5 separate regions of the Homo sapiens genome follow, and all the other regions are reported to be linked to region 1. Evidence: microRNA targets listed by miRTarBase, many of them from high-throughput screens and not tested one by one. Region 1 holds a microRNA gene; each other region holds the end of a gene's coding sequence.

Region 1 (4,426 bases):
CTGTAATCCCAGCACTCTAGGAGGCCAAGGCAGGCGGATCACCTGAAGTTGGGAGTTCCAGACCAGCCTGGTGAACATAGTGAAACCCTGTCTCTACAAAAACAAATACAAAAATTAGCCACACGTGGTGGCACACATCTGTAATCCCAGCTACTCAGTGGGCTGAGGCATGAGAATTGCTTGAACCTGGTAGGCAGAGGTTGCCGTGAACTGAGATGACGCCACTGCGCTCCAGCCTGGGTGACAGAGTAAGACTGCATCTCGATAAATAAATAAATAAATAAAATCTACTCCCTTAGCAGTTTTAAAGAATATAATACATTATCACGGTCCTCAAAGTATATAAATATCAAAGCATCACGTTTTACACCATAAATATATTCATTTTTCCTTTATTAAAAATATTTAAAAATTGTTTAAAGAATACACAGGCACATAGGAAGCAAATGTCAGTTTCACTCATCTGGACAAGTTGTCAACAACCCCCATTCACTCTGGAAAAATACAAGAAGAGCTGGTATGGAGATCACACCTGGGTCTGAGGCCAAATGAGGCACTGCACCTACCTGTCTATAGGTATGAAGACAGCCAGGTACCCACTCAGCCAGGTGTGGGGAGGGGAGAGATCAGAAGCCTGCTGGGTGCACATGGGCACTTAGAGCTGTGCTTTGGGGACCCCAGAGAGGCCGAGGCATGCCCTCCAGCCTCCCAGCACAGGGGAGACCTCAGCATGTGTCAGGGGTCACCTCACCACGCAGACTGGCCCTCCCTGTTCCTGTGGCTTCATGTGTCCTTGAAAGGGCAGCCAAGGCTGGCTGACGGGGCAGGGAATGGACAAGGAGCAGCCTGGAAGGGCTGGCACCATTCTGAAACTCTGCAGAGTGGACCTTCACCAGCGGCTTCTCCAGCAGGAGCTGCCTCTCCCCTGTCACCTTGTTTGGAACAATGAGGCATGTCCAGACTGAACACGTTGCCTCACTGGCCACTCGCTGGCTGTTCCTCAGGGTCAACCACTCAACCTGCCTCAGGTGGACCTCTGGACTTCCATGCAGGCCTCAGCCGGCTCTGTGTTTCTGGGCTGCTGGACTCTGTAATGGGCCCTCCATGCACTCATGTGTCTGTGCTAGAGACTTGGAAGTGATCCCAGCTTCCTCCCCGGCTCTCCTCGGCTCCCCTCCTTCATGCCTGTGTCACTGCCTCAGTTTGGACCTTCAGTTTCTCCATTCTGAGCCACCTGGAGTCTTCAGGTAAGGTTCCTTGCTCCTGCCCAGCCCCTCCCATCTGTCACCACCACCACCTGGGTGATCCCTCTAAAGCATCACCCAACTCTGCCATTCCCCACTCCTCCTCCCTTTAGTGGCCACCAAGTGCATGGGAAATGAGGCCAGGCCACCTGGCTCATGATGTGGCCCTGCTCACCCCTTAACAGCATCCCTGCTGCACTTCAGAGCCAGTCCTCCAGCCACACTGCTGCCCGTCCATTGCCCTGTTTTCCCTGTTCCCTGGGTGGAAACGTCTTCCAGACTTTGAGGAAGGAGCAAGAGACAAATCATAACCAAATTCCTCCCTGACTGTTGGGCCAAGTAAGATGGAGACTAAACTGCTTGGCTCTGTCCCTTGGAGTTCATTGAAGACATTGAGTGGGTACCGTGGAGTGGGAGCCAAAGGTCAGCTTGGAGTGGGTGCAAGAGGGAAGGAAAGGGAGGAAGGGGAAAAGCAAGGACAGTCAGCTTCTGGTGTCCATGGTGGATTGGTTTCGGGACCCTTGTGGATCTCAAAATTCATGGATGTCAAGCCCCTGATATAAAATGGCATAGTATCTTTATGCAACCTATGCACATCTTCTGTGTACTTTAAATAATCCCTAGATTGCTTATAATGCCTAATACAATGTAAATGCCATGTTAATAGTTGCTATACTCTATGGGTTAGGAAATCATGATAAGAAAAAAAGTCTGGATGTGTTCAGTAAAGACAGATTTTTTCCCAAATATCTTTGACCCATGCTTGGTTGAATCCACAGATATCAAACCCATGGATTGGAAGGGCAGACTATATAGTCATCTCTTCCAAGAATTTGGCCATAAAGGGAAGCAGAGAAATGAGTGGTCATGGAGAGGAATATGAGTTGGGGCTGGTTTTACGCTGATGGGACACATCACAGCAGATCTGTATGATGATGGGAATGATTCTGTAGACAGTGGGAATTTGAGATATAGGCATTGGAGTGGCTAATGACAGGTGCATTGTCCTGGAGTTGGGGAAAAGAGGCAGGACAAGGTGCTAGACTAAAAGTGGGCATTGGAGGCACTTGCACAGTGAGCAGTAGGGCTCCTCGGCTGCTTCCCTGGTCCAACTGTGGCATGTGACAGGCCGTTCACCACAAGCTCCACCTCCCGCCATGAGGCCAGGCAGCCTCTCTGCAGATACCAAACCACCCCAGAGAGGAAAGCTGCAGGTGCTGATGTTGGGGGGACATTCAGACTACCTGCAGCAGAGCCCATGGCTGACAGGACCTGCACACCCCACAAAGAGACACCCACACCCCCCATGTTCACAACACAGACACCCACACACACACCCATATACACCCCACAGACACAGACCCACACTCATATACCCACACCTACCCACAGATAGACGCAGACACCTGCCATCCTGCACAGGCACCTCCCAACCCCACAACGTTTTAGTGCATCTCTCTTACATATAAACAGATATAAAGTATTACCAGACACTTGAGGGAAGTCGCCCATAGAAACCAAAGCAAACGAGCAAAATTTGAGGAGTTACTATTGAGATAATTCAGGAAACAGAAGAAAATTTCACAGACACTATAACTAATGTCTTCAGAAGGGTAGACTGAAGGGTAGACTCACAAAATTAGAGATGGATACCACAAAAAAAAATTAAGAACAATCCATTTGGGATCTTGGAGACAGGGCCTCCAATTAAGGAGAAAAGCAGAGAAGACTCCAGATTGATGGCTTGTTGGGGGTCAGAGCAGCCCTGTTAGACTGGAATGTGCGGGGAGAGCACTTTAGTGGGAGGGTTTCCAGGAGGAAAAAAGGAGACATGTATTTAACAATGTGGAAAATATTACAGAGATTTTTTTCCCATAACATTTTTTGGGGGCTGAGGAAGGAGTTAGTAATAATTTGAAAAAATAATGAGCCATAAAAAATGGAGCATATTAACTCCAGGGAAGGCCAAAAGTTATAGAAATAAAAAAAAACATGATATTTTTATACTATAAGGCTTAGGGATGGGAAAAAGCACATATGAAAGACAAAAACTTCATCTGGCATCGTAAGTCAATAAGGAATGCCTAAATTTCATTAATCGAAATATTGTAGTATGTTCATTTTACTTAAAAATATCAAAGTAAATTCCAGAATAAACAGGGGCAAGGGTTGAAAATGAGAATCAGGAGGGGTGTGGGGGAGGGGGGCAAGTAGGACCAGCCATGTGGATTTTGTGTGTCTTCTGGTAAAAATCTTCAACTTTTAAAACTATGTGAATATGTTATTTTGGTTTCAAAAAAAACAGTAGACTGAAAACTATAAAAAGCCAACAAAATAAAGGGAGAAAGAAAGAAAGGAAGGGCAAAAAGAGAGGCGGGGGGAAAGAGGTGGAAAAGGGGAAAGAGAAATTGACCAGCAGGGACAACAGACACAGCTCTTGCCTGCTCTCTTCTCCACTCTATAATGTTTTCTCACTAGTCAGATTCTTCAAGGACAATCCCTTTTATTCCATCTGGTGGCCAATTTGAAGAGTGCCTGGAATGGGCATTGATACAACAGTCGCTATTATGTCTGTCTGAGTGGTGTTTTGTACTTCAGAATTATACTCGACAATAAAGCATTGGAAGAAAGAAAATGTCATTGCAGTGCCTACTATGTGGATGACGCAATGCCAAGCATTAGGGGATCTAGGAGCTTATGTCTGGTTGGAGACAGACATTGAAGAAATCATGCACAGAAGCGGGGCAGGTGCAGTGATAGAATGTCAGTGTCCTGTGAGGGTGCCACACAGGGAGGGTCTAGTCTACCTGGGGGTAAAAGTGATGGGTGTTTTCAGGGTAGGGAAGGTCTCCTCTCAGGAGGGACACCTGGACAGTCCTTGGACCTTGGATTTTCTCTACTCCCTTCAGTCTCTCCCTGGGCTCATCCTGCCCTGTGGCTTTCATCACCATCTGTGTACTAATCATGCCCAAATGCCCACTGTCAGTCCTGAGTTCTCCCGTGAAAATTAGAGTGGCATATCCATTGCCCACTTGACTTGTCTTCTTGGATGTCTAATCATTCTTTCAAACCTACACGTCCAAAGAAAACTTGGTTTTCTCCCCAAGTTCAGCTCCTCTCAGTTTTCCCCTTACAGTGGTCTGCAAGGCCCTTCACAACTGGGCTCCTGCTACCTCCACCAC
Region 2 (4,000 bases), not on the chromosome of region 1:
CTGAAGACCTCGTTAAAGGTCCTCACAATAACTAACTGTGTGCTTTTGGAATCAGACTTGAAGCATCTATCCCAGTGCCCGAGTATCAGTCAACTAAAGACCCTGGACCTGAGTGGCATCAGACTGACCAATTACAGTCTTGTGCCTCTCCAAATTCTCCTAGAAAAAGTTGCAGCCACCCTTGAGTACCTGGATTTAGATGACTGTGGCATCATAGACTCCCAAGTCAACGCCATCCTGCCTGCCCTGAGCCGCTGCTTTGAGCTCAACACCTTCAGCTTCTGTGGAAATCCCATCTGCATGGCCACCCTGGAGAACCTGCTGAGCCACACAATCATACTCAAAAACTTATGCCTGGAGCTGTATCCTGCCCCGCAGGAAAGTTATGGTGCTGATGGTACTCTCTGCTGGAGCAGATTTGCTCAAATTAGGGCTGAGCTGATGAAGAAAGTGAGGCACTTAAGGCACCCCAAGAGGATCTTGTTCTGTACTGACAACTGCCCTGACCATGGCGACAGGTCATTTTATGACCTGGAGGCAGATCAATACTGCTGTTGAATGCCTGCCTATTTGGATGGGTATGTCAAACGCTTTCTTCTGGACACTTGGAAACTAAAACCTAGGTCTTAGGTACATCCTAAAGGGAGCACAGAACCCATCGTTTCACACATGGGCTCTGAAAGTGGGAAAGGAAAGCTGATCAAGCAGGGGCAGGACTTGGGGGAAATGTTGCCATGGATTCAATGGGACTTTGGGAACCTGTATCCTGTAGAGTCGAAAATGGGAATCTGAATGTCTAGAGTGGAATTCAGGCTTGAGAATACATGAGGGAGTTACTCTTGCATGGATGGTTGTAAAGAAACAATCAGAAATAAAGGAAAACTGAGCAGAATCTGTCTGGTGCCCTCTATTATTAAGTAACCTGTTTTCCAGTTTAAGCCTCAGGAATCTTCAGTTATTGATGGAAAAAACAAAAGGCACTGACTGAGTTGTCCAATCAATAAGATGCAGCCCAAGAAAATCAAGGCATTTAAATGAAATTTGGTTATTGTAACCAGTTTCCTCCCATTCTTTTATTTGAGACAGAGTTTCACTCTTGTCGCCCAGGCTGGAGTTTAGAGTGCAATGGTGCCATCTCAGCTGACTGCAACCTCCACCTGGGGTTTAAATGATTCTCCTGCCTCAGCCTCCCAAGTAGCTGGGATTACAAGCATGCACCACCATGCCCAGCTAATTTGTGTATGTTTAGTAGAGACAGGGTTTCCTCACTATGTTGGCCAGGCTGGTCTCAAACTCCTGACTTTGGGTGATTCACGCAAGTAGGCCTACCAAAGTGCTGGGGTTACAGGTGTGAGCCACTGTGTCAGGCTTTTGTTTTTGTTTTTGTTTTTGTTTTTTAAAGGTCTCCTGTCACTCAGGCTACAGTGCAGTGGCACAATCATACCTCATTGCAGCCTCAATTTCCTGGGTTCAAGCGATCTTCCCACCTCAGCCTCCTGAGTAGCTAGGACTACAGCTGTGTGAGCCACCACACCTGGATACTTTTTTTTAGTAGAAACAAGGCCTCGCTGTCTTCCCCAGGCTGATCTGGAACTCCTGAGCTTGTGATTCTCCTGCCTTGGCCTCCCAAAATGCAGGGAGTATAGGCGTGGACCACCACGCTTGGCTTGGCCTCCTCCAGTTCTTCACTTCTTTAGATGTCTGTTAACTCCTTGTTAGTTTCTGTGGCTGTTCAGTGGGTTAATACACACTAGGTGGACACCAAAGGCCTGGAACATTGCTGGGCAAGAACAGTGAGCCAATCCACACGGAAAGCACCTTCTTCTCAGCGTCTTTCACCGCTATCCAGATGCTGAGACCCTGCCCACTCCCTGTGAGTCTCCACATGCTTCCAGAAGCCTTAGTTGGTGGATGTCAGCTTCACTGCACAAGGAGCCAGTCTCTTCCCGCTGCCCTGGAAGGGGATGTCCATATTGTGTATTAGCTGGAGACTCTGGGCAGCACCAACCCTTGCTTGTTCCCCTGATGACCAGCAGCCCTTCTTGAATTAAACTTGTTGTAGCCAGTAAAGACAGCCACATTCCCTTTAAGTAAAATACTAAAACTATACAGGCATGTAACACTTTTTAAATATTTCCATCTGACATTTTAAAAGTTACATCTTTTTGGGGAGCTAGGTCAGATTGATGAGAGATTTTCTCATAACACCTTCCCTCTCTCCCTATGAAGGAAGTGACTAGTGCAGCATGTTCTGGAATCTGACATCATCAAAGGGTGGATAACGATCAAGTGCCTGTGGGTGATGAGTGACCTTCCCTGTGGTGAGGAAGCCTGCATAGTGGGCACCCAAGTGAAGGATCCTGCTGTGTACTCAGGGGCTGGTGTTGCTGTCAGGGATGTTAGCCTAGAGCCTCAGCTTCCTGTAAAATGAGGATGATGATATCCAACAGCTTATGGGACCTTGGTAGGATCCAATGAGATGGTTCATGTTTAGGGCTTGGCATGGGGTCTGGCATACAGTAAGATCAATACATCTTGTTCTTTTTTCTCTTCTCAGCAGAAGTCCCAGCATTTTTCATCTTTCAATCTCACCTCCTTTTCCTGATAATAGAGAGGCAACAAGAACTCAGGGCATGCAATGGGGCTCAACTTCTACTCTCTGCCACAATTTCATCATGATTCCCCCAAAGAGCAGAGCCCCAGGAGCCAGCAGGGGGCAGGGTGGGCATTTCTGGACTGGATTCATTCATAATAAGATCAAAATTTCCAATCCGTATGTCTCGGGTGCCATCTGCTGATAGATCGGACCAGATGGTATAATTGAGTGTTGCAAGGATTATATTTTATGGTGTTTTTAAAAATGTACTATTATGAGCCAGGTGCAGTGGCTCATGCCTGTAATTCCAGCACTTTGGGAGGCTGAGGCAGGTGGATCACCTGAGGTCGGGAGTTTGAGACCAGCCTGAGCAACATGAAGAAACCCCTTCTCTACTTAAAATACAAAAAATAGCCAGGCGTGGTGGCACACGTCTGTAATTGCAGCTACTCGATAGGCTGAGGCGGGAGAATCGTTTGAACCTGGGAGGTGGAGGTTGCGGTGAGCTCAGACTGAGCCATTGCACTCCAGCCTGGGCAACAGTAGCAAAACTCCATCTCAAAAAAAAGATAAAATAACATTTATTATTATGGCTGGGCATGGTGTCTCACACCTCTAATCCCAGCACTTTGGGAGGCCGAGGCAGCCTCGGGATGTTGAGACCAGCCTTGCTAACATGGTGAAACCCCGTCTCTACTAAAAATACACAAAATTTGCTGGGAGTGGTGGCATTCGCCTGTAATCCTAGGTATTCAGGAGGCTGAGGCAGGACAATCACTTGAACCCGGGAGGAGAAGATTGCAATGAGACGAGATCGCGCCACTGCTCTCTAGCCTGGGCGACAGAGCATGAAAAAAAAATTTACTATAGTGTGAATACTATTAGAGTATAACTATTTGTGTTGTAATTTATGTATATGAAAGATTAGAACTTTGAAAGAATGCAACGTGATATTTTAAGAATGGTTAATGGCCAGGTGTGGTGGTTCATGCCTGTATTCCTGGCACTTTGGGAGGCCGAGGTGGGTAGATCACGAGGTCAGGAGTTCCAGACCAGCCTGTCCAACATGATGAAACCCGGTCTCTACGAAAAATACAAAAAATTAGCCTGGCGTGGTGACAGGTGCCTGTAATCCCAGATAGTCAGGAGGCTGAGGCAAGAGAATCGCTTGAACCTGGGAGGCAAAGGTTGCAGTGAGCCGAGAATGCACCACTGCACTCCAGCCTGGGTGAAAGAGGAAGACTCCGTCCCAAGGAGGGTGAGAAAAAGAATACTTAACTTGGTTTGAAATGTCAAAACAAATGAGATTTTGAAAACTAATTTTAAAGACACTGAACAATAATCATTTCTTCTTTAAAATATATTTAGAACAATACAATTTTATCTTTGAAAGGAAACATTACA
Region 3 (4,000 bases), not on the chromosome of region 1:
TGTAGTTTAAAATATAGGCTTATGGGGGAAAAAATAGCAATTTTCAAAATTATATTTACTCTGAATGTAACTGTATAAAAATATGTGTATGGACAAAGACTGGAAAGAAAAAAATAGATGTGGTTAAGTAGTAGAATTCTAGTAGATATTTTTCTCTTAAGTCTGCCTTCTAGATGGGAAATTACATTATGAGTAATTAGCCAAAAACAGGTTTAAGTTCTCAAGGAGTTAAAGTTTTTGTTTCAGCAGGCTAATAAAAATACTGTCTGGTGCTGTATATTGACACAGTTCTTCTGCTAACTTTTGTCTGTGTATTTTTCAGTCAATAAGCAGATAAATGACAAAGAGCGAGTGGCAGCTGCAATGGAAAACCCCAACTTACGGGAAATTGTGGAACAGTGTGTCCTTGAACCTGACTGATAGCTGTTTTAAGAGCCACTGGCCTGTAATTGTTTGATATATTTGTTTAAACTCTTTGTATAATGTCAGAGACTCATGTTTAATACATAGGTGATTTGTACCTCAGAGTATTTTTTAAAGGATTCTTTCCAAGCGAGATTTAATTATAAGGTAGTACCTAATTTGTTCAATGTATAACATTCTCAGGATTTGTAACACTTAAATGATCAGACAGAATAATATTTTCTAGTTATTATGTGCAAGATGAGTTGCTATTTTTCTGATGCTCATTCTGATACAACTATTTTTCGTGTCAAATATCTACTGTGCCCAAATGTACTCAATTTAAATCATTACTCTGTAAAATAAATAAGCAGATGATTCTTATAATGACTCACTGTTTTTATTGAATTGTAAATTCCAGTGTAAATGTCAACTCCTAAAGGATATCTTCAAAGCTTTATTTTTGCTGATTATTTTGTAGAATCAGAGATCTGAGAACCAAAAGGAACCCTTAAGATTGGGCCTTCCTTCCTTCCAAGGAGAGTCCTGGACCCTTTCATAGATAAGGAACAAATGTGGAGAAGGCTAGATGGCATACACAATTTTGAAGATCAAGAAGTCCACCAAAGAAGTTTTGATTAAACCAACCTAAATGTATGGTCCGCACTTTATCTGTCCTTCATTTGGTTTGTTTTAGGGGTTAATGGTCATGTGAAGTATAGTAGCCTCCAACATGGCCCCCAAGATCCTCACTTCCTGGTATTCATGCCCTTGTATAGTTAACTTCCATATTGAATTGGAGCTGATGGGTGTGGCTAATAAAGAATGGCAGAGTGACAATGGGTGACTTCTGAGGCTAGATCATAAAAGGTATTGCTGTTTTCACCTTAGGCTCTTGGATTGCTTATTCTGTAGGAATCCAGCTGCTATGTCACGAGAACTCAAGCCACCCTGTGGAGAATTCCACACGGAGTGCAGCTGAGGCCTCCCAACAACAACCAGCAGCAATTTGCAAACCATGTGAGTGAACTCCTGATGCAGAACTGCCTAGCTCCCAAAGTCTGGACCCAGGCACTGTCTTGGGTGCCAAGGACACAAAGATACATCAGCCATTGTCTGTCCTCCTGGAGTTCATACTTATTAGCCTGGACCTTCAGCTTCTCTCTGCTCCAGGCAGTGAGTGATTCGGACTCAGTTTTATCTACTGCCTGAGCTCGTCCTGGCCAAGTAGAAACAGAAGCCGGGCAGCAGGTCCAAAGACAAAACCATGCCTTAGGGACTGTCTGGTGAGGACACTACTGACATGCAACTCCAAGTGGATCATTGCTACAGGAGTCACCTGAACTGCTGGCCCTGCTGCTCCTGGAAGCTAGATGTGACTTCTGTTGTCTCCGCTACTGCCAGAGTGATTTCTCATTTTTGTGTGACTCACTCCAGCTTCCTAGTCCTAGCTGAGATCTCTAGTCGGCTGATCTCAAGTCACATGTCCATGTCCTGGCTGCCAAGAAGGCGGGAGAAAAGAAAATCTGACCTTTGGTGTGGGGAGGTGGACTCTGTCCCCCCAGCAAGACTCACATGGTGGGAATTCTATAGTAGAGTGAGAGGGGTCAAAAAACTAACATCTACTGCATTAATTATATTAGAACATGAATTTAAACTTTATTAATCATAATGGTATCTACATAGAAGTGAAAAATAGAGGTACATATATAGTCAGAAGTAGTGTTATCTGGTCCATGTTTGGCAAGGGTTAGGAAACGTTTTTGGAAAAGGGCCACATAGGCAATATTTTAGGCTTTTCAAGCCATATGCTCTGTTGTAACTATTCAACTCTGCCCTTGTAGCACAAAAGCAGCTGATAGTCTGTAAACAAATAAGCATGATTGCACTCCAAGAAAACTTTATGGACACAAATTTGAATTTCATATAATTTTCATGTGTCATGAATTAATATTTTCCTTTTTAATTTTTTCAACCGTTTAAAAATATAAAAACCATCTTAGCTTGTGGGTTGTACAAAATTCCAGCATTGGGCTGGATTTGGCCTGTGTGCCATTAGCAAACTCCTGATTTACAAGAATGATTATCCTTTCTGAAAAGTCAGACCAATTGGAAAATCAGATAAAAGATGTGGAATGGGCCCTCTCCCTAGGGAGAAAAAGGCACTCACATGAAACTGCATGTGACTCCAGGACATTCACAGACTTGCTAAGGAGCCAGTGGACCCCGGGTTAATAACTCTGCTTTACAAGTAATGCTAGCTGAGCACTGGGCTCCCCCCTCCTTTAATAACCCCCCAGAGCCCTGAGGGTTCACAACTTTGGGAGTATAGGGGCAGAAGGTGTGATACCTTTCCTCACCCATCATAAAGGTCATGGCCAACACCCCCGTGACAAAAGACAGGGTAACAAGAGAAAAGCATAACAAATGTGGTCAATCCAAGTTTTATGTGACACAGCAGGCTTCAGATAGGAAGAATCCAAAGACCCAGGGAAAACTGTCTTATTTTTCTGCTTAGGTTTGACGAAGAGTGGACAATTGTGTAGAAATGTGATTGGACAAAAAGTGCGATCTAATGGTAATGGACTAAGTGGGGAAACCCAGCAAGGACTATCTCTTCAGATTCTTCTTGGCCTTTCTGTGTAGCATTCCTTCCTCCTGGGTATGGGGCAGTCTTATGACCTACTGTTAGATAAGGCAGGTCAGAGAATTTCTTTATGGCCAGCTCATGCACAGAAAGGCGGGGGAAAGTTAGAGTAATATTTCTAGGTTTTGTGGTTTGCTTTTTGTTGTTGTTACTGTTTTTGTTTTTGAGATGGTCTTGCTCTGTTGCCCAGGCTGGAGTGCAGTGGCACAATCATGGCTCACTGCAGCCTCAACCTCTCAGGCTCAAGTGATCCTCCCACCCCAACTTCCCAAGTAGCTGGGACCACAGGTGCATACCACCATGCCCAGCTAAATTTTTTTTTGTATTTTTTTGTAGAGATGGGACTTTGCCATGTTTCCCAGACTGGTATGGCTTGCTTTGAAAAGAGGTTCTGGTTTCTATTTCCTCCCTTGGGGAAGACAGATTCTGTTTTCTATGACTCCCTTTGGAGGAGGAAGGGGCAGGAGACAGCAGGGCAGGATATGGTCAGAGAGAGTCTTTGCTTTTGAGGCTGCTTCTGAGGCTTTCTATTCTTCTTTAATTCACAGCACACCAAGGAGCCATATTTTGGGTTATTGCTTTCTGAGCCCCAGTAGGAGCCACTACCTTCTTGTTTTTGCTTTTGAGACAGGGTCGCTCTCTGTCGCCCCTGCTGGAGTGAAAAGGCACCATCAGGGCTCACTGCAGCCTCAAACTACTGGGCTCAAGCAATTGTCCCACCTCAGCCTCCCAAGAAGCTGGGACTACAGATGAGAGCTACCACGCTCAACTAATTATTTATCCACTGCTTTCTTAGACCGTTACAAATAAGAAGCTTATGGCCGGGCGTGGTGGCTTAGGTTGGGTGCAGCGGCTCACGCCTGTAATCCAAGCACTCTGGGAGCCGAGGCGGGTGGATCACGAGGTCAGGAGTTCAAGACCAGCCTGGCCAAGATGGTGAAACCCCATCTC
Region 4 (4,000 bases), not on the chromosome of region 1:
TGATGGGGAACCCTTTTCTAGGATGAGTGCTATTTATACCTTTCTGGATCTCTTTTTGAGGGTTTATGATTTGCTCCATAATTGAATTACACTCTGTAGTGCATATTGTCATTTACTTGAACTTTCTAAAACCTTCATTTGAGGTTAATTGTAAACCTGTGTACCTTAGGATATGAAGGAGGGTACAGGTTGTTCTTTGTTTCTACTCCATTGAGGTAAGTTGGAGAATGTTAATATTTAATATGTTAGGACAAAAGATTTTTGTTTCTAGTTTTTGTTATGACATCATATTCTTTCATGATAAACAGCCACTGCCTTTGTCCTGTGAGCCATTACAGAAGGCTGTTGTGTTTTGCCTCAGGTAATAGAGTAGGATAGAAAGTAAAAGTTGGGGTTGAGTAATAGGATGATAATGTGTTTTGTTTTCTTTCTCAGTTTCCTTCTGTACTGAACAGTCATGGGCCATTCACTCTGTCTGGGCTGGATGGACCTTCCACCCCTGGCCCATTTTCCCCAGACCTACAGAAGACATAACCTATGCACTTGTGGAATGAGAGAACCGAGGAACGAAGAAACAGACATTCAACATGATTGCATTTGAAGTGAGCAATTGATAGTTCTACAATGCTGATAATAGACTATTGTGATTTTTGCCATTCCCCATTGAAAACATCTTTTTAGGATTCTCTTTGAATAGGACTCAAGTTGGACTATATGTATAAAAATGCCTTAATTGGAGTCTAAACTCCACCTCCCTCTGTCTTTTCCTTTTCTTTTTCTTTCCTTCCTTCCTTTTCTTTTCTCCTTTAAAAATATTTTGAGCTTTGTGCTGAAGAAGTTTTTGGTGGGCTTTAGTGACTGTGCTTTGCAAAAGCAATTAAGAACAAAGTTACTCCTTCTGGCTATTGGGACCCTTTGGCCAGGAAAAATTATGCTTAGAATCTATTATTTAAAGAAATATTTGTGAAATGAATTGGCATCTTTAGGACTAAGTGTGCTCTGTTGAATGACTTAAAGTGAGCTGTTCCTAAGCAGTGGAAGAAGAAGAATCATTCCTATTCATACAAAGTAAGATTGGAGCAGTCATACTGGGGAGATTGTTTTGTGTGAACTATAACGTGTAAGCAACTCCATGAAAAGGCATCTTGTTTACCTTTATTCAGGGTGGATCTCTTAGCCATATGTATGATCCTGTCTGAACCTGTCAACAGAGCATGGAGCTAGTCTATTTCACTATAGAAAGATTTTTAGACCTGGGGTTTAAGACAGTTTTTGGAACACCTAGTAAGAATATGGGACCTCACATCTAGCACAGAAATGCTCTTTGCCCTCTGGGTGGTATGATTATATGCCCATGGAATACAGCATGGGAAATGATCACTTTTAGGAGGATGAACTTGGATTTTGAATATTTGAAACATCTCTGAGTAAAAGATTCGATCAGATAACTTGAAACAACATGTAGTGGTTTTCTCAATTAGAAGATAACCAAGTGAAGGACCTGTCTTTTTCCTGTTCATTTTACCTCATTTTCTACTATACATTTATCACCTTTCCTTTATGTTTAAGGTTGTTAGAGGTTATGATAGTTTTAAAGATGCAGTTAGGAAGGTAGAATTCAAAGTGAAGCCTCCCCAGTCAGGAGCGAAGATGTGCTTATTTCCTTTTTTTTTTTTTTTTTTTTTTTTTGAGACAGAGTCTTGCTCTATCACCCAGGCTGGAGTGCAGTGGCGCGATCTCAGCTCACTGTAAGCTCCGCCTCCCGGGTTCAAGCAATTCTCCTGCCTCAGCCTCCTGAGTAGCTGGGACTACAGGCATGCGCCACTACGCCTGGCTAATTTTTGTATTTTTAGTAGAGACGGGGTTTCACCATGTTGGCCAGGATGGTCTTGATCTCTTGACCTTGTGATCCGCCCACCTCAGCCTCCCAAAGGCGCAGGCTCAGATGTGCTTATTTCTTTCAACTTTTTTTTTTTAAATGGGGAAGAGCAGAGTTCATTTGGGAATGCTTATACATAGGGATTGGATTGTTCATATTAGTAGTAAAAAATGTAGGCCTTATTCTCTACATTACCAAATTTTTAAAATATTACTATATGGTAATCAATGCCAGGTACAGATTTGTTGGTTCCCCAAACTGAATTGATATCAGTATCACAGTGGAGTCTTTTGAAAATTAAAGTCCAGGATTAAATTATATGTTGTCACCATTCACCACCACTACCACCCTCCCCCACCAATCTCTCCCACCGGTTAAACTCGTCTTCTAATCCTGTAGAATCACATGAACTAAATGAAGAAGTAAGAACTTGAAGGCTCAGACTGACACTGTTACAAACTAGCATCTTCAGATGCATGGTATTTACTTTAAATGTGCTTATATACAGTGTAGAGAAGCTCTTGTATAAGAAGACATCTATGCTAGCTAACTTAGTAGTAGTAGAGGGAACATATTCAGTGAGCTGCCTTTATATCTGTAGTGTCGGAGACTTGTTACTGGTTCATTTGTGGTTATCAGTTGAAGGTTCTGTTCCTGAGATGTGCAATAGTAGTGTTGAAAGGTATTGTTTAATAGTGATGGGGAACAGACATATTGGACTTTTTTTTCCATATTAAATTATTTAGTTTGCATGCCTGTTTGAAATTGGACCTCTCAGCAGCACTTTGAAATAGTTTTAATTAGGTTAACATTTTGTACATTAAATAAGTAGATATAGATGGTTGATTTAACTAGATGTGTTAAATTTTGAAAGCACAAAGGTATTTTATCTTTTTGAATTAAAGGAGAAAAGCCATTGATTTGTTTTCACAGACAGTATTTTTAATAATTAACTGTCTCAGCACAGAGGTACCTTGGAACCAAGGGCACCATTGAAACTCAGTTGAAGCAACTTCCTAGTAAACCATTTTAGTGAGTCCTTTTTGCATAAATCTATAGCCTCTCAGAGGTGTGAGGCTGTCACAGATTGGTGATCTGCTATCTCTTTGAGATCAACTAATTTGGAGAAGTGTGTGTGTGCGTATCCTTTTTTAAGTCAAAGTTTACAACCTTACTGCAGGTGTATGAGGCAGACAGTTCTGTTTATAGACTACCTCCTTCCTGGAAAAGTCTCAGCTTCATATTCTGTTGAATATATGCAGAATTCTTAGTGTGAAAGGTGATGTACCACTTCAGATCAGTTTTCACTGGAGAGACTTGTAATTGGTAGCTGTAGCTCGTATCCATCCCTAGTCACTTTGCCAGGATGAATGCTGTTGGGCAGCAGTAGCCTAAGTTACGGAAGGGGAGCAGATTGAATGGGGTTTTGAGACATCTTCTCTGATACCTTAGCTTTCCTTCTGCTCTGGTCGCTATCCACTCAGTCGTGTGCTAGAAATGTTTAACAACCAGGATCTCTGGGGTGGGGGTGGGGGGGAGCGCTGAATTTGTAGCATTTGCTGCAAATATAAATTATAAATAAAATTCTAATATAAATTAGAATTTTATATCAAATTCTTTGATATAAATTAGTTACTCCTCCTGTGGCTGATTTCAAGCTACCACCTTAGAGTTCAGAAAGGATGTGCACAGTTGGCTCAGAGCCAGTGCTGGCAAACCATTGCATTTACTCCACCCAAGAGTGGATTTTCACATAATTTCTAAAATAATTTTTTCTTATTTATATACTGACTTTTCAAAATACAAAATTAAAATATCATGTCTGACTTCAGTGATCTTTTTCTTTTTCTTTTTTTAGAAATGAGATCTTTCAGTAATCCTTTAATTTAATTTTTTAGAGATGGAGTCTTGGTGTGTTACCCAGGGTGGACTCAAACTCCCGGGCTCAAGTGATCCTCCTGCCTCAGCCTCCTGCATAGCTGGGCTACAGGCATGCACCACCACACCTGGCTTAGTAATCCTTCTTTATTAATGGTTTGTCACAGTACGTTTGTGATGTTATATTGCTCATGGCATACTTTATGTGTTCGAACAAAGGTGGAAATTTCCATTGATTTTTTT
Region 5 (4,000 bases), not on the chromosome of region 1:
GGCCAACCTCAAGCTGTCCTGCCAACCCATGGTGAGTTCCCCAGCTCTGCCTTGGTGGTGGTGGTGGTGGTGGTGAGGGGATTGAGGACGTTAGCACTCATTACAGTGTGGGGTGGGCTAGGAGTGGGCCAGGCCTTCATCCTTGTCTTCCTCCCAGCTCAGTCTGGATGACTTCCAGCTCCAACCACCTGTAACCTTCCGCCTGAAGTCGGGCTCTGGCCCTGTGCGGATCACTGGGCGGCACCAGATTGGTGAGAAGAGGGGAGGGCCCTCTCCTTTGCTTCCAGTGGACTCTCCCATCAGGCTTCCCCCACTCCGCACTCCTGCCCCATCCCACCCTCATCTCCCAGTGCAGCCCTGTACAGGTCTGTGTGCCCTCCACGCTGTGCCCTGTGCATGACATGCCCTCTCCTTTCCGTCTACTCAAGCCTACCTCCTCCATGGAACATGGCCCAACTTCTCCAGCTCCAATAATGAAGACTCCTTTGGCTCTTTGTGACCCAGTTTAGGGTCTGAGGTTCTTCCCACCTAGCCCATAAGCACTGGGAGGTCATGGTCCCTGTAAGCCTAACACCACGGCGTGAAGAAATGGCATGCGGTGTGAAACGGTCTGGTCTTAACACCCCATCCTTCTACTGCTTGTGTGTCCACCAGTTACGATGAGCAATGATGTTTCTGAGGAGGAGAGCGAGGAAGAGGAAGAGGACAGTGATGAGGAAGAAGTTGAGCTGTGCCCCATCCTTCCTGCCAAAAAGCAGGGGGGCAGGCCCTAGCCCTCCTAGGTGAGTTGCGGGGAGAAGTGCCTAGCAGGCTCTGGGAAGGGGCAGGAGAAGCAGGTGAGGGCCTAAATGCTGATTCCTTGTTTCCTCTTTTCAGGTCAGCTCCATGTGCCATGCACCGCCATGCACCCTGTTCCCTGACAAGTTTCAACAATTGTAAATATTTCTTCCTTGAAGAGGAGAGCTTGGGTGGGGGTTGGGTGGGAGGGACTTGGGTCTTTGGTGCTAGGAGAGGGCCTGTGCTCCACACAGCCGTGGTTTTCTGATTTTCACCATGCCCGGGGCCTCCCTTCCCACCTGCCTGTGAGAATTGGAGGTTAGTGCCTGAAGCTCAGAGCTACACATTTTTAATAGTTTTTACATTTTTGGATAAAGGTTGAAATAAAGTGGTGTGGAGTTTTTGCAGCTCTTGTGTGGCTTCTTCCTGTGCTGGGTGATGTTTCCCTAGGGACCGCCAGGTGGCACTGTGGAAGCACCCAGCGTGGCCCTGGGCCTGGGGGAGGGTGGAGAACTGTGGGATCCTCTACCCTCATGGCCCTGGGCTAGGACCTGGGGCCTGGGCCCCAGTTGCCTTGCTGGAAGGGGACCTCCCAACACTCAGCCCATTCCCAGTCTCTGCAGGTGGGAGAGGGTCATCGCAGGAGGTTATCAGCATCCAAACAAGGGGTCTGGGCCTCTGTCAGCACTCGGCTGATGGGCAGGGGGGCAGATAAGCGAGCTTAGGCAGCCTGAGGAATGCGCGTCCCTAGCCCCACGAGGGTCTCTGGCCCAGAGAGGGCCTGTGAGGGCAGGGCGGGACCAGGCTTCGCTCCTCCTTTGAGCCTTGCAGGCTGTCTCTGAGCAGGGCTGGGCCCTTAGAGAAACCTGACTCCGGGGGCCAGATGGAGGGGACTGGCCAGATTGGGTGACAGGGAAACCAGAATCCGGGTGGCCTGGCATATGGGGGCAGAAAGGGGCCCCAGGGAATTTGCCTCCTGGACTAAGGGATTCTTGTCCCCCACACACCGTGGGGTCTGGGGGTCTTTGGTGCCTGGAATCAGGTAGTTCTGGCACTTGGCTGCCTTTGTGCCAGGAAGAACTGACACACCTGGTTTGAGGATGAGTGTATGTGACCAGCTCTGGGGTCAGCAGTTCAGCAGCTGTGTTGGTTGTGGGGGGAGGGTTGTCAATGCCCACAAACAAACAAACAAACAAAACATTGCCTCCCCAGACAACCTGGGGCCAGACAGGCTGAGGATAGACAGAGAACAGGGCCTGATGGGGGTCAGGCCAACTCCCACTCCCAGCCTCTAGTCAAGGGGGAGGGGCCCCGGGATATCGCGGGCTGGTGGTTCTGGGGCAGGTGAGGTCAGCTTTGAAGACCTTGCGTCCGCAGTACCGACCCGCACGCTCTTCAGCGCATCCCTAGTGAAGGAGGTTCTCCCCCAGCCCGTGGTGAGGAACTAGGGGTCCAGTTTCCAACCTCCCTCTTCCTCAAGTTGAGGACAAAGGGAGATGACGCCCGTCTGTGTTGCGGTGATCTGGGTCGCAGGCGCCTTTCTCCGATCCAGGAGGGCGCTGCTAAAAATGCTTCCCTGGGGAGCCCGGCGGAGGGGCGGCCTGGCTGGGAACCATGGGTCTCGCTGCGGAGCGCGGTCGGCAGGGAGAGGGAAGTCGGGGCTGGCGCCCTCTGGCGGGCGAGGTTGAAGCCGCTCGTGGTCGTACCGCTTCCCTGGCCTCTAGAGGCTCCGGGCGGGCGCCGTGGGGCCGGGGCCTCCGAGTCCCGCCACTGCTCTGGGCGGCCGAATCTTGGGCGGAAGGCGGGGGAATGCCACTGAGGCTTGCATGCATGCGTGCATACGTTCATTCATTCATTCGAACGACTTGAGTTGGAGTGGGGAAGTCTGGCTGTGGCCCTCACTCCTCTTTCCCTTCCTCTTCTTGGCCCCAGCCTCCAAAGTCCTCGGCACGTGCTTGGCAGGAGGAGCGGGAGACTGGCTGAGTCCTCTCTCCTGGGAGGCCTCCCTAGCTGACCCATCTACCCCCTGCGCGGCTCCGCCCCAATATTTACCCCACCCACCCCCCGCGATGCCACTGATCGCTCCTTGCATTTCTCGCCGGTTTTCCGGGTAGGTCTCCCGGTGGGCGCGGGCCTGCGCCGAGCACGCTCCTGCCCGCAGTGGGGGCCCAATCCACATCAGCCTCTCGGCCCAAGAGTTTCTCGGCCGGTTGGGGCGCCCCGCGGACACAGCTGGGCAAGGTTTATTCCTCTCTCCTCGCCCCAGCCTCTCCTCGAGCCCTCTTCTTTGCCCTTCAGCGCACAGTAGGAGCGCTGCCGGCTCACTGTGGCCTCAGACCCCTGGGGGATGAAGGCATACGCCGGGGTTTGCCGACTGCTGGAGGAAGGGCAGGCTTCTATTTGGGGGCCGAGGGAGACGACTCCCAGACAGTGGCCGAAGTGCTTAACGTAGTCTCGGCGATTTGCATTTGAACGGTCGGCAGTGAGTCCGCGGCGCTTTGAACGCCCGGCGCAGGAAGCGCGCGTCGGAGCGAGCTGCGGTCTCCGGCGGGTGTGGATTGGAGGGGCCGGGGGATGGGCTGGGATCGAGGGGTGCGTTTGGAAATAGGCTGAAGTAGTGTGTCTGGGTGCAGGCGAGGGCGTGTCTGCGGAGATGGGCCGTTTGTGTTGGCGAGGAGTGTGTGTTTGTGTTTGCAGGCGAGGGAGTTTGTGTCTGTGCGTGTGTGTGTTTGTGTTTGCGGAGTGTGGGGGCGGCCAGGAAAGGTGGCCGGGCTGTCACTCAGCGATCAGGTTGACAGGCGCTCCCTCATCTGGGCCAGGGAGCTCTGATTGCAGATTCGAGGAAACAAAATAGCAATTGTAATTACCGGGCTTTGATAAGATAAAGGAGGGAGGGAGCTGGCCGGGAGGCGGGCGAGCCAGCAAGGGAGGGAGCGGCCTGCGGGGGCCCGGCGGGACATTTGCATCTGTCAGTCACGGGGCGTGCCAGGGCAGAGCCAGGTGCTTGCTCCCGGGGTGTCCCCATCTGCTCCTCTCCCCCAGAGAAACGGACTTTTGGGGAGATGAGAATTTCAACGAACTAGGTGAGGGTCCGCTTCTCAGGAGGGTCTCCAAATCCAAATGTAAAGGAATCCTGGTCCAGCACAGGCTCCCTGGCAGAGGCTGGGACAGGACTGAAACTTGACCTCGGACCCTTCAGATCCCAGGACGCCCATCTTCTCTG

What was found. Region 1 holds the annotated microRNA hsa-miR-4262 (GACAUUCAGACUACCUG, at 2,475-2,491, shown strand). A microRNA usually pairs through its seed, bases 2 to 8, with sites in the 3' UTR of a target mRNA and lowers its output. Matches are read on the target gene's strand: a 7mer-m8 pairs with bases 2 to 8, a 7mer-A1 pairs with bases 2 to 7 and ends in A, and an 8mer does both.
Region 2: miRTarBase lists PRAMEF11 as a target of hsa-miR-4262. Seed matches in the 3' UTR shown: 7mer-m8 at 790-796.
Region 3: miRTarBase lists CIAO2A as a target of hsa-miR-4262. The part of its 3' UTR that is shown has no 7-base or 8-base seed match.
Region 4: miRTarBase lists ELK4 as a target of hsa-miR-4262. The part of its 3' UTR that is shown has no 7-base or 8-base seed match.
Region 5: miRTarBase lists NPM3 as a target of hsa-miR-4262. The part of its 3' UTR that is shown has no 7-base or 8-base seed match.

The regions. Positions count from the first base shown.
Region 1 is chr2:11,835,008-11,839,433 of GRCh38, reverse strand. MIR4262 (microRNA 4262) reads left to right here and starts at 2,448; the gene lies at 2,448-2,501. All of the region lies in intron 3 of LOC105373430 (a long non-coding RNA gene), which reads right to left.
Region 2 is chr1:12,821,500-12,825,499 of GRCh38, reverse strand. It overlaps PRAMEF11 (PRAME family member 11), which reads left to right. Exons shown (of 4, transcript NM_001146344.3): 4 at 1-895. The coding sequence ends at 558. LINC01784 (long intergenic non-protein coding RNA 1784) reads left to right here and starts at 2,277. Exons shown (of 2, transcript NR_146629.1): 1 at 2,277-2,464; 2 at 2,561-2,814.
Region 3 is chr15:64,069,351-64,073,350 of GRCh38, reverse strand. It overlaps CIAO2A (cytosolic iron-sulfur assembly component 2A), which reads left to right. Exons shown (of 5, transcript NM_032231.7): 5 at 323-786. The coding sequence ends at 420. Among named protein-coding and RNA genes, the nearest start is that of CIAO2A, 22 kb to the left of the region's middle.
Region 4 is chr1:205,613,080-205,617,079 of GRCh38, reverse strand. ELK4 (ETS transcription factor ELK4) reads left to right here. Exons shown (of 5, transcript NM_001973.4): 5 at 436-4,000. The coding sequence ends at 534. Among named protein-coding and RNA genes, the nearest start is that of ELK4, 17 kb to the left of the region's middle.
Region 5 is chr10:101,778,509-101,782,508 of GRCh38, reverse strand. It overlaps NPM3 (nucleophosmin/nucleoplasmin 3), which reads left to right. Exons shown (of 6, transcript NM_006993.3): 3 at 1-31; 4 at 158-251; 5 at 655-782; 6 at 877-1,184. The coding sequence ends at 773. It also overlaps a transcript of FGF8 not described here. Among named protein-coding and RNA genes, the nearest start is that of NPM3, 2.9 kb to the left of the region's middle. RefSeq lists enhancers at 1-135, 1,063-1,357, 1,236-2,086, 2,164-2,293, 1,934-2,831 and 1 more, a silencer at 2,514-2,593 and a promoter at 1,203-4,000.